3 linked regions of the Homo sapiens genome follow. The protein of the gene in region 2 purifies or fractionates together with the protein of the main gene of each other region. This does not show direct contact. Each region holds a gene or a part of one and is shown on either strand. Other genes may lie near its edges.

Region 1 (2,995 bases), 1.7 Mb from region 2:
CCTAGGTGACCCCGGGCCAGCCTGGGCCTCCTGCATCCGCAGTGAGGTGGGGTCCAGCCTGTGATGGGGAGGAAGGAAGCCCCAGGCAGACAGGCCCATGGTCACAAGGCCCCCTCCACAGGCCAGACTGGCGGCCTTGAAACGGCCAGACGACGTCCCACTCAGCCTCTCTCCCAGCAAGCGGGCGTGTGCCTCCCCGTCGGCCCAGGTGGAGGGCAGCCCTGTGGCAGGCTCCGATGGCAGCCAGGTGAGCTGAGGTGGCAAGGAGCAGGTGGCAGATGAGTCGGGGCTGGGCAGCTGTGACCCTTCTCTCCCCCCACAGCCTGCTGTGAAGCTGGAGCCCCTGCACTTCCTGCAGTGCCACAGCAAGAACAACAGCCCCCAGGACCTCGAGACCCAGCTGTGGGCCTGTGCCTTCGAGCCGGCCTGGGAGGAGGGTACATGGTGGCGGGCAGGCGGGGCAAGGGCCGCTGGAAATAGGGCCGCCTGGATGGGTGGGGGATCAGGAGACAGAGCTTAAAAGGCGCCATCAAGGCTGGGAGGAGGAGGCTGCAGGGAGGACCTAGATGGGAAATGTCTCTGCTCATCCGACCTCTCAAAACCGGGCACTCAGGGGCCACATCCCAGACCGTGGCCACGTGCGGCGGGGAGGCTGTGTGCGTAATTGATTGCCAGACGGGCATCGTGCTCCACAAGTACAAGGCACCCGGCGAGGTGAGTGCAAGGCCCTGTCCCTGCTGGGCAAGGGTGCCCGACTGACTCCTGAACAGCAGCATGGGGATGGATGCAGGCTCGGCCCCCTGCCCCATGGCCTTTTTCTTTCATGCTGGGGCTCCCTCCCCCAGGCCCGGGCTACCCGCGTGTTCACACCAATAGCTCTGCCCCAGTGACTGTTTACTCTAACCCCCGCCCAGGAGTTCTTTTCTGTGGCCTGGACCGCTCTGATGGTGGTCACACAGGCTGGCCACAAGAAGCGCTGGAGTGTGCTGGCGGCTGCAGGCCTACGGGGCCTGGTCCGGCTGCTGCACGTGCGTGCCGGCTTCTGCTGCGGGGTCATCCGAGCCCACAAGAAGGCCATCGCCACCCTGTGCTTCAGCCCCGCCCACGAGACCCATCTCTTCAGTAAGCCCCTCCCCTTCACCCCTGGGACCCCCAAGCACCCCTGTCCTGCTGCCCCAGTAGCCTCCACGCTCCCCTCCCTGGGATGGCTGTGAGCTCGGGCGCCTGCCGGGCCCCAGTCTGCACCGCTCCGACTCTAGCTTTGGCAGGAAGCCATGTCGCTTCAACCCTGGCTTTATCCACAGCCTGCTCTGTGGCCTCGGAGTTTTCCAACAGCCTGGGCCACTCTGTCCCCTGTCAGTGACCTGGGGGGATGCCCCTGCCCCCGGGTGTGGCGCCCCTGTCAAGGGGGATGGATGAGCCACAGGAAGTGGCCGCTGGAGCCACCGCATCAGGTTAGATGGAGGAAACAGGGATTGGGGGCCCAGGAGTGTTCCTGTCTCCTAGCCTCGGCCCGCCCTCCCCGCCTCGGAGGGGCTGGCCTTGGGACCGTGGGCTCAGCCTGGGATGCAGCCAGCAGGAGGGAGCAGGGTCATCTCAGGGCCACTTCTCCCCTACCCCACCCCCTCTTCAGCGGCCTCCTATGACAAGCGGATCATCCTCTGGGACATCGGGGTGCCCAACCAGGACTACGAATTCCAGGCCAGGTGATGCTTCGGGTGAGGCTGGGGAGTGGCCAGCTGCTGGGGCAGGGACACCTCGGTCTGGGTCTGATGCTCTGTTCCCCCTTGCCCACTGGCAGCCAGCTGCTCACACTGGACACCACCTCTATCCCCCTGCGCCTCTGCCCTGTCGCCTCCTGCCCGGACGCCCGCCTGCTGGCCGGCTGCGAGGGCGGCTGCTGCTGCTGGGACGTGCGGCTGGACCAGCCCCAAAAGAGGAGGTGAGGCTGGGCAGGGGGCGCCTTGGAAGCCAGGCCTCTGCAGAGGGTGGCTGTTGGCCCAGATGGGCTCACAGCAGCCTGGGCACACCCGGGTAACCATAAGGGTTGTTTTTAGAGGCCTCTTCGCAGAGCTGGCTTGTCCCACCTTTCTGCCAGGCTCTGGAGGAAAGGACTCTGACCCTGCTCTCACCCTGGGTTCAGCTGTGGGACTGGGCCATGATGACCTCCCCTTCACCTGGGGCTTCAGCACCATGCTGTGCCCACGTGATCCAGCCCACTCCTGCCACTCATCAGCAGTGTGATGGTCCTCTGTGCTGGCATAATGTCCTCATCTGTAAAGAGGGGCCGATGGCTAGCGGAGGGCAGGTGAGGTGGTGTCTGGGCAGGCAGGCTTTGGAAGTGCCACGTTGAGGCTTTCTGGCTCATCTGTCCCACCTGGAAGGCCTCTGAGACAGGGCTTGGCAAGGGGTCCCTGTCCTCTTGGGGCCCCCAGCCTACTGGGGAAGACAGATGCTCAGCAAAGGTGGCCAATCAAAATCCCACAGTGTGATGCCAGCTACGAAGGAGACGGAAAAAGAGTAACGGGCAGAGGGACACTAGCGTGGGGGCCTCAGGGGACTCTGCTGAGGTGACCAGCGGCAGATGGATATTCTGGGGCTCACGCTTTCCTCCCTGGGAGCCTGGTGAGGGAGTCAGCGGGCGGAGGGTGGGGAGGTGCTTGCATGGAGGAAATGGTACGTGCAAAGGTCAGTGGCAGGGGAGCCAGCTGGCCTGCTCCACCATGTGGCCACAGCTGGGTGGACCCAGCCCAGAACAAGGTGGCAAGGGTGCCTGGGCGGGGCACGCCGGGCTTCGTCAGCCACGGTAAGCTTTGCATTTCTATTTATTTACTTTTTATTTGAGATAGAGTCTCCCTCTTGTCACCCAGGCTGGAGTACAGTGGCTCGATCTCGGCTCACTGCAACCTCTGCCGCCAGGTTCCAAGTGATCCTCCTGCCTCAGCCTCCCGAGTAGCTGGGATTACAGGCGCACGCCACCATGCCCGGCTAATTT
Region 2 (3,653 bases):
CAGTGAGTTTTAGAACAACAAAGAGTTACCGCTCTTAAAATTATTTCCATCCTCCACACTTTAAACAAAACCCTATGTATTTTTTAAATCTGAATTATTACCTAAGGTATACCTGATATCCTCTTTTCTATGAAACTGCCTACCTTTTCTCAAATTTGAGGTTGTGACATTAATGTAAAGCCTTTAAAGAATGAGTCCTAAATACATATTTGGCAATCTTATTCTAATCTCTTCCCCTTAGAAATTTACAAGTGTTAAGAAATTTCAAAATATTCCTGGGATCTTAAAAAATAAAGTGAAAAGAAGTATGTTATTATTACCTTAAGAAAAAACCTCTTGTCAGTTCTTGCTGGATTGTATGAAGCAAGGTATGCAGCAATTAGAATGAACTTAGAGTAATATGGAAGTTCCACATGAGTATGCGCTGAGAGGCCTATATAACAAAACACTTTGATGAAGTACTTATTAGGCTAACATTGGGTTTTAAGTATCTCTTCTCACTTGACTTTTCATTTCCATATGGTATTCTCTAGTCAAAATGACCTATTTCCTTATTTTAAAAAGTGTCATGATAATGATGGTCGTGGTGGTGATCAACACTATTATTAATGACAGGCTTTACTCAATCTATTATTTTTGCTTGGCTCTTCTCATTCTGAAGTCTAAATCCTACTCGTTCTTCTCTTCAAGGCCACGCTCTCCATTAAACCCCTGGTGTTCCCCTACCACACCAAAATAGAGAAACTTATTTCTACTATGAATTCCTACTCTGAGTATTCCCACATAACGTGATGCCTTATATTAACAGTTAACTGTACAGGTTGAGTATACTTTATCTGAAATGCTTGGGACCAGAAGTGTTTTGGATTTTTTCAGATGTTAGAATACTTGTATATGCCAGTTGAACATCCCTAAATTCTGAAAAATCAAAGAAAACAAGCATTTCCTCTGAGCTTATGTCAGCACTCAGAAAATTTTGGAGCATTTTCTATTTGGAAGTTTTGGATTCAGAATGCTTAACCTGTACATAAATCATACCCCTTAGTAAACAATACTATTTGTTGAAGGAGCTATGTCTAATGTTTTTTTGTATCCCTACACTGCCTTGCACATAGAAAATAACTGATGAATGGATAAATATTAAAACAGTAGGGTCATTCAAGTAGCACTGATTCTTAAGGGAAGGGAAGGAATCTGATATTTACTGAAAATCTACTATGTGTCAGACACTGTGTTAGGTGCTTTACTTAAGCATCACTTTGAATCTTTGCAGTAATGCTAAATATTCTTCCTATCTCACAAGTGAAAAATTGAGCTGGGTTCAAGGTCAAACAGATAGAAAGTAGTGCAAATCAATTATTACAGATTTGTTCTAACTCTGGCATCTATCCCTTTTCCTAAAAACACACAACTAGAAGTCACTTGTAAAGCATCTGGAACACATAAAAACCAAAAAAACACAAAACAGCACTATTTCATACCATTTTCTTTAACCATCAGCCACTGACTTTTAAAAAAAAATTTTTTTTCAATATTTGCTCATTTTTTTAAGTAAAATTAGTTCTATTTAATATTTGGGATGAATCCAAAGTAGTAGTTTTCTTAAACAAAAGCACAATGTTTTCAAAACATAACCACCAAAGTGCATATCCCAAACCGATTAACATAAAATTACATTTTATTCCATAAAACTCATGAAATATAAACATAATGAGATAAAACTGTCACATAATTAGATTGCTTTAATAAAAGCATTTAAAGAAATAGAAACTGCTTGATTTTCATGATATAATCCAATATTTAGAAAATAGAAAGCTGGTATTCAAACTTTTATTTCCTCCCATTAAATTAGAGCTTCAGTTAAAGAAAAATCATTAATCAAAATAGCATTATAGCTTGAAAAGTAAATTCTCTTTTATAACACTATTTCCTGACTGAATGCTCTTTAGTATTAACTTTAGTATCTTGATAATTAGCTGAAGAAGTATCTCCGGTAACTGTCTCAATACTTCCTCTGATACCTTTCAGTTGCCCCGGATCTGTGTCATCTTTCTGTAGCTTTTCCCACTGGGAACTGAAAAAAAATAGAAGAGCAAAAATGAATTAAAAATAAATAAAATCAATATGGTGTACTTAAAACAGAGCCCTAGAAAAACTAAATTTTTTTATTTATTAACAAAACAGAAAAGAAAAATATATACATGCAATAAACATGTTTGTACCTGTACAAAATAATTTAATGTATATATTAGAATGTCATAAATTTATAAAGCAATACCTAGATATTAACTATTTTAATAATCTCTTTTACTATGATGACTGTTGTAGCTATCAAAAAACTTCACCCAGGCCGGGTGTGGTGGCTCATGCCTGTAATCCCAGCACTTTGGGAGGCCAAGATAGGAGGATCACATGAGGCCAGGAGTTCAAGCTCAGCCTAGGCAACATGGGGAAACCCCATCTCTATTAAAAATACAAAAATTAGCTGGGTATGGTGGCGCATGCCTATACTCCCAGCTACTTGGGTGGCTGAGGCACGAGAATCACTTGAACCTGGGAGGTGGACGTTGCAGTGAGCTGAGATTGTGCCACTGCACTCCAGCCTGGGCGAGAGTGAGCCTGTCTTTAAAAAAAACAACAACAAACAAAAAACCAATAAATACTACCACCTACCACTCGGTAAAACTCCCAATGTTCTAGTTACCGTATTAGATGCAATTGTCATATACTATTTCTAAACTCTATAGCAATCCCTCAAAGTAGGTATCACACCAGAAAACTGAGGCTCAAAGATTAAGTCACCCAAGGACATTTAGCCAGTCAATACTAGAGCTACGAGTCGAATCCTTGTAGGATGCTTGCAGAGTTCAAGGTATTTTAATTGCCCCATCCTGGACTTATTTGCAATTAAAACTGTTAAACAACCAAAACACTATTAAGAATATGAAGTGATTATGACACGACAAATTGAATTTATAAGGCAACACACTATAGTATAATGAGTAAAGAATGCCCTACGACAGTTTTAGCTGCATGACTTCGAAAAAATGAATAGTTTACTCATAAAAAAAAATAAGGCAGTTTGATGCAAAGGTGCTCACCAACTCTAAAACTCTCACAGAACTCTTAAAAATGAGCTAATTTACAGGGCTAATTTAAAAATAATGCCAGATTAGAACAATTAAATATCCAAAATCTGCATGAAGAACAGGGTGGAAGTGATAAGGATGAGTGTGGGCCTTCTTTGAGTATACTTTAAAAAAAGTAGTTTTAGCTTTTGAAGTATTCTTTGATGCCCATCTCTCACCTGTATAGCAATCAACAAGTTTAATTTTCCCCTTTCTCTTTTCCTTCTTTTCCCAATTTTTAAGTTGTAATATTCCTACCTTGTCAGAATACATAATATTTACATACTATTCTTCTACTCTTATTTCCACCTTAATTTTAGTTTGGAGCTAAGCTTAATTAAATTCAATGTTCATCATCAATCCTTTTGTTAGTTTCTCCAGTCATCTCTTTTTCACATCAAGGTCGTCCTAAGAAATGTCTTATGAGTAGTGTTCTCTGAGTTCTTCCATGTTTAATATTGTTTTTCTCTAGCCTTGATAGTTCAATGACAGGTTTGACTGAACATAAAATTATTTGGCTTACAC
Region 3 (3,222 bases), on a different chromosome or scaffold from region 2:
CCCAGGCCCTCCTGGAACCTCTCTCCCTTCCCACCCCCACGCTCCCCTCTTTTCCTCCAGGCTGAAGCGAGGGGAGAGGAGGAGATCCCCTGGGGGAATTCTGAGCAAGGCCCAGCCTGGGTAAGCAGGTACCTGATGGTGGGCCCCTGCGCAGCCTGCCCGTCCCCAGGGGCCCCCTCGGCTGCCTTGTCCTCCAGCTGGTGGGCACTGAGGAACTGGTTGAGGTCGCCGTTCTCCATGTAGTCAGTAATCATGCAGAGGGGGTCGTCCTGCACACACACGCCCAGCAGCCGAATGATGTTTGGGTCCTTGAGCCTCGACATGATCTTCACCTCTTTCAGGAAATCATTCCTGGAGAACAAGGAGAAGCTGAAGAGGAATGCCGAGTGGGCGGCCTGCACCTTCCCCCGCGCCCCCACCCCCCTGCCCCACCTCAGGCAGACCAGGCGTCCCCACCCCCAGCGTACATGTAAATCCCCTCCCAGAGATGCCACCCCTCTGTTGGGCTCTGCCATTGTTCTCTCTAGATGGCTCCCCACTCTTCACGGCCTCCCCTCCCTTCTTCCAGATGCCATCCCTGGTCCTCACCTGGCATTCTTGGTGGCATCTGGCCGTAAGATCTTGACAGCTACCAGCAAAGGGTGTCCCTTACGCACATTAAGGGGGAAATCAAGACTAACCAGATCTTGAGGGCTGTCGACCTCACACAGGTGCACCTGGAGAAAGAAGTTCGTTTGCTAGGCGGTCACAGGGTCAAACGGATTAACACGGTTACAAATGACTAAGGTTCCTGGCTAGGGGGATGCGCAGGCATGGCATCAGAGCACACAATAGGGCCAGACACTGGGTAGGCACCCTCCTTACCTCCCCAAACTGGCCCTCGCCAAGCTTCTCCTTGAAGCGGAGTCGAGATCGAGGGAAATCCACTCTGGGGGGCCCATCCCCGACTGCCCCTGGGGGCAGTGCAGGCACAGCATAGGTGTTGCCCCCGGTGACGCCCTGCAGGGTAACAATGTCAGCCTCGGCATAATGGGGGACGCTGTTCTGGGGAGGTGGGGGCAGAAGCGGGGCGCCTGGCTTCTCAGGCTCCATATAGTCCCCACTGTAGGCTGCAGGGGTGAGGGGAAAGAAGACAGGACGAGGCATCAGGAACAGCCCAAGAGCTATAGTTCCCCACACCTCAGCCTCCCGGAGGGCCCTGTGTCTCCCGGTTGAGTGAGAGACTGGGTCTATGCTGTATCTTCCCAGTATTCCATGCGCCAACCTCAAACCAGGAAGACACTGGCATGGGACGAGAGTTAGCTATTCCAGAGCTTTTCAAGGCAATGAATATGGTTGAGCAAAACTGTCATAAAGTCTTACTCTTTTAGGGCCTCCCTAGGGTCTCTCAAGAGACTGTGAGATAAATCTTGGCTGGAAGAAGAATTCCTCCCCAGGAATTCTCCCGCCTCAGGATGGTCCCAGCATCCAGGCACCCTCCACCTTCCAAACCCTTGTCCCGTTCACCACAGCTCCCTCCCCTTCACTTAGCTGCTCTCCCGTGGCTTTCAGCCTGGCTCCCCCTGGGGCCAAGCCCTCCCAACCCTTTCAACCCAACACACCAAGCTCAACAACAAGCAGAGACAGAGGCACACAGAGAGGAGGGAGGGTAACAGCTGCTCACAGCCCCAACACAAGTTGTCTACAGACAGGAGAGGAAGCAGAGCTGTCCCCTCTTAGCCCTGGGGAAGGGGCCACAATGAGAAGGCAACACTGAGGAGAAGAGGGGCAGATGGAAAGGGTTGGGGCATGAGCCTTCACCTCTGGGACTGCAGAGAGAGGACACATGTGAGGGAAAGGGCAAGCGCCCGGGGTGAGAGCCCTCCTCCTCGCAGCTCTAGAGAGAGTGGAGAATAAAGGAGGAGTTACTATAGTCTGGGGCCACCACAGCAACCTCCTGTCTAGCTCTGGAGAGCTGAAGAGATGGCGTGGAAGAGGAGGAGGGAGAAGAGCTGGGGACCAGTAAGCTTTCTACTCCTCAGCTCAAGGGGGGGACCTTAAAAAAGAGCAAGCAGCAGCAGAGATGAGCTAAGGGCACAAGAGCTTCCTCCTTGGGAGCTCAGGAGAGCAGAATAGGCCACAGTGGGGAGAGGAGGAAGTGCAAGGTGTGAGGGCTTTTCCCTGCCCCAGTAGAGGTATGGGGAGCCTGGCGGAGCCCAGGGGCAGAGGGGCTTACCCTGGGTGTTGGTGGGTTTGGCCCAGGCGGGTGTGGGGGGGCCCGGGCCTCGAGGGGGACGGGCGTAAGTGGCCAGAAGGAGGCGGTAGGCTGGATTGGAGAGCAGCAACGCTGTCGGGAGAAGGAGGAGGGGAAACACGGGGAAGGGATGAGACTCAAGGCTAGACAGACAGGGAGACCTTGAATAGGGCAAGACCAGGGCTGATGGGATGATTGCATTAAGAGACAGACAGGATAAAACAAGGATCTGCAGAGTGACGGACGGCTGGCTGGATAATGAATGCATGGACAGATGGGACGTATGAATAGATGGATGGATGGTAAACAGATGTTTTGTTGGATGGATGGATAACAGATGGAAAGATGGATGTGTGAATATAGATGGATAGATGGATGATGGATATGGGTGGGTGGATGGATGGATGAATAGATTTATGAATATAGATAGAAAGACAGATGATGGAAGATTGATGGATGGATGCAAGGATGTATGACTATGGATGGAAGGATGGGTGATGGAGGATAGATGAAGGAACAAACATGGTGAGTCTAATACAAAGCAAAGGGGCCAGGGAGACACAATGAGAGGGTACAACAAAGATAGAGAGATGTCTGTGGGACACAGACAAGATAGCACCACGGGGGACTATGGGTAATACATGGGGAACTCTTGAGAGAGACTACATGGTAGGGACAAAGAGTGATATAGACAGTAACCAGGGGCACAGAAAGAAGAAAACAAGTGGAAACTGGGGAAGACAGGAAAAAAAGAGAATGGGAAAGGGATACAATAAGAAAACAGCAGAGAGGACAGAGGTGCGACTGGAACAAGGCAGGTCTTACCAGAGCCATTGGGGACACAGGGAGCGGAGTGGGGCGGATTCCCACGAGGCCGGGGCTCCTGGTACGGGGGTGGCTCTCTAGGACCTGGGCGGTTGTTGATGAGGATAGTGTCCCCAGGGACAGAGAGGTGAACCGTCAGCTCCTCTTCCAACACCCTCCGTTCA

The links.
Region 1: the proteins of ORC5 (region 2) and LRWD1 purify together in Homo sapiens (affinity purification with mass spectrometry; 4 studies listed by BioGRID and IntAct, with this or other methods). This does not show direct contact.
Region 3: the proteins of ORC5 (region 2) and DDR1 purify together in Homo sapiens (co-immunoprecipitation; one large-scale study listed by IntAct). This does not show direct contact.

Annotation. Positions count from the first base shown.
Region 1 is NC_000007.14:102,467,941-102,470,935, forward strand, and holds part of LRWD1 (leucine-rich repeat and WD repeat-containing protein 1), read left to right. Parts: intron 1-121; coding exon 122-247; intron 248-322; coding exon 323-437; intron 438-613; coding exon 614-714; intron 715-914; coding exon 915-1,122; intron 1,123-1,633; coding exon 1,634-1,706; intron 1,707-1,801; coding exon 1,802-1,942; intron 1,943-2,995. UniProt on the Homo sapiens protein: Required for G1/S transition. Recruits and stabilizes the origin recognition complex (ORC) onto chromatin during G1 to establish pre-replication complex (preRC) and to heterochromatic sites in post-replicated cells.
Region 2 is NC_000007.14:104,166,452-104,170,104, forward strand, and holds part of ORC5 (origin recognition complex subunit 5), read right to left. Parts: intron 2,075-3,653; coding exon 2,022-2,074; coding exon of another isoform or gene 1,924-2,021; exon of another isoform or gene 1,738-1,923; intron 434-1,737; coding exon 321-433; intron 1-320. UniProt on the Homo sapiens protein: Component of the origin recognition complex (ORC) that binds origins of replication. DNA-binding is ATP-dependent. The specific DNA sequences that define origins of replication have not been identified yet.
Region 3 is NC_000006.12:30,894,508-30,897,729, reverse strand, and holds part of DDR1 (epithelial discoidin domain-containing receptor 1 isoform 2 precursor), read right to left. Parts: coding exon 3,059-3,222; intron 2,327-3,058; coding exon 2,216-2,326; intron 1,110-2,215; coding exon 865-1,109; intron 717-864; coding exon 589-716; intron 370-588; coding exon of another isoform or gene 352-369; coding exon 133-351; intron 1-132. UniProt on the Homo sapiens protein: Tyrosine kinase that functions as a cell surface receptor for fibrillar collagen and regulates cell attachment to the extracellular matrix, remodeling of the extracellular matrix, cell migration, differentiation, survival and cell proliferation.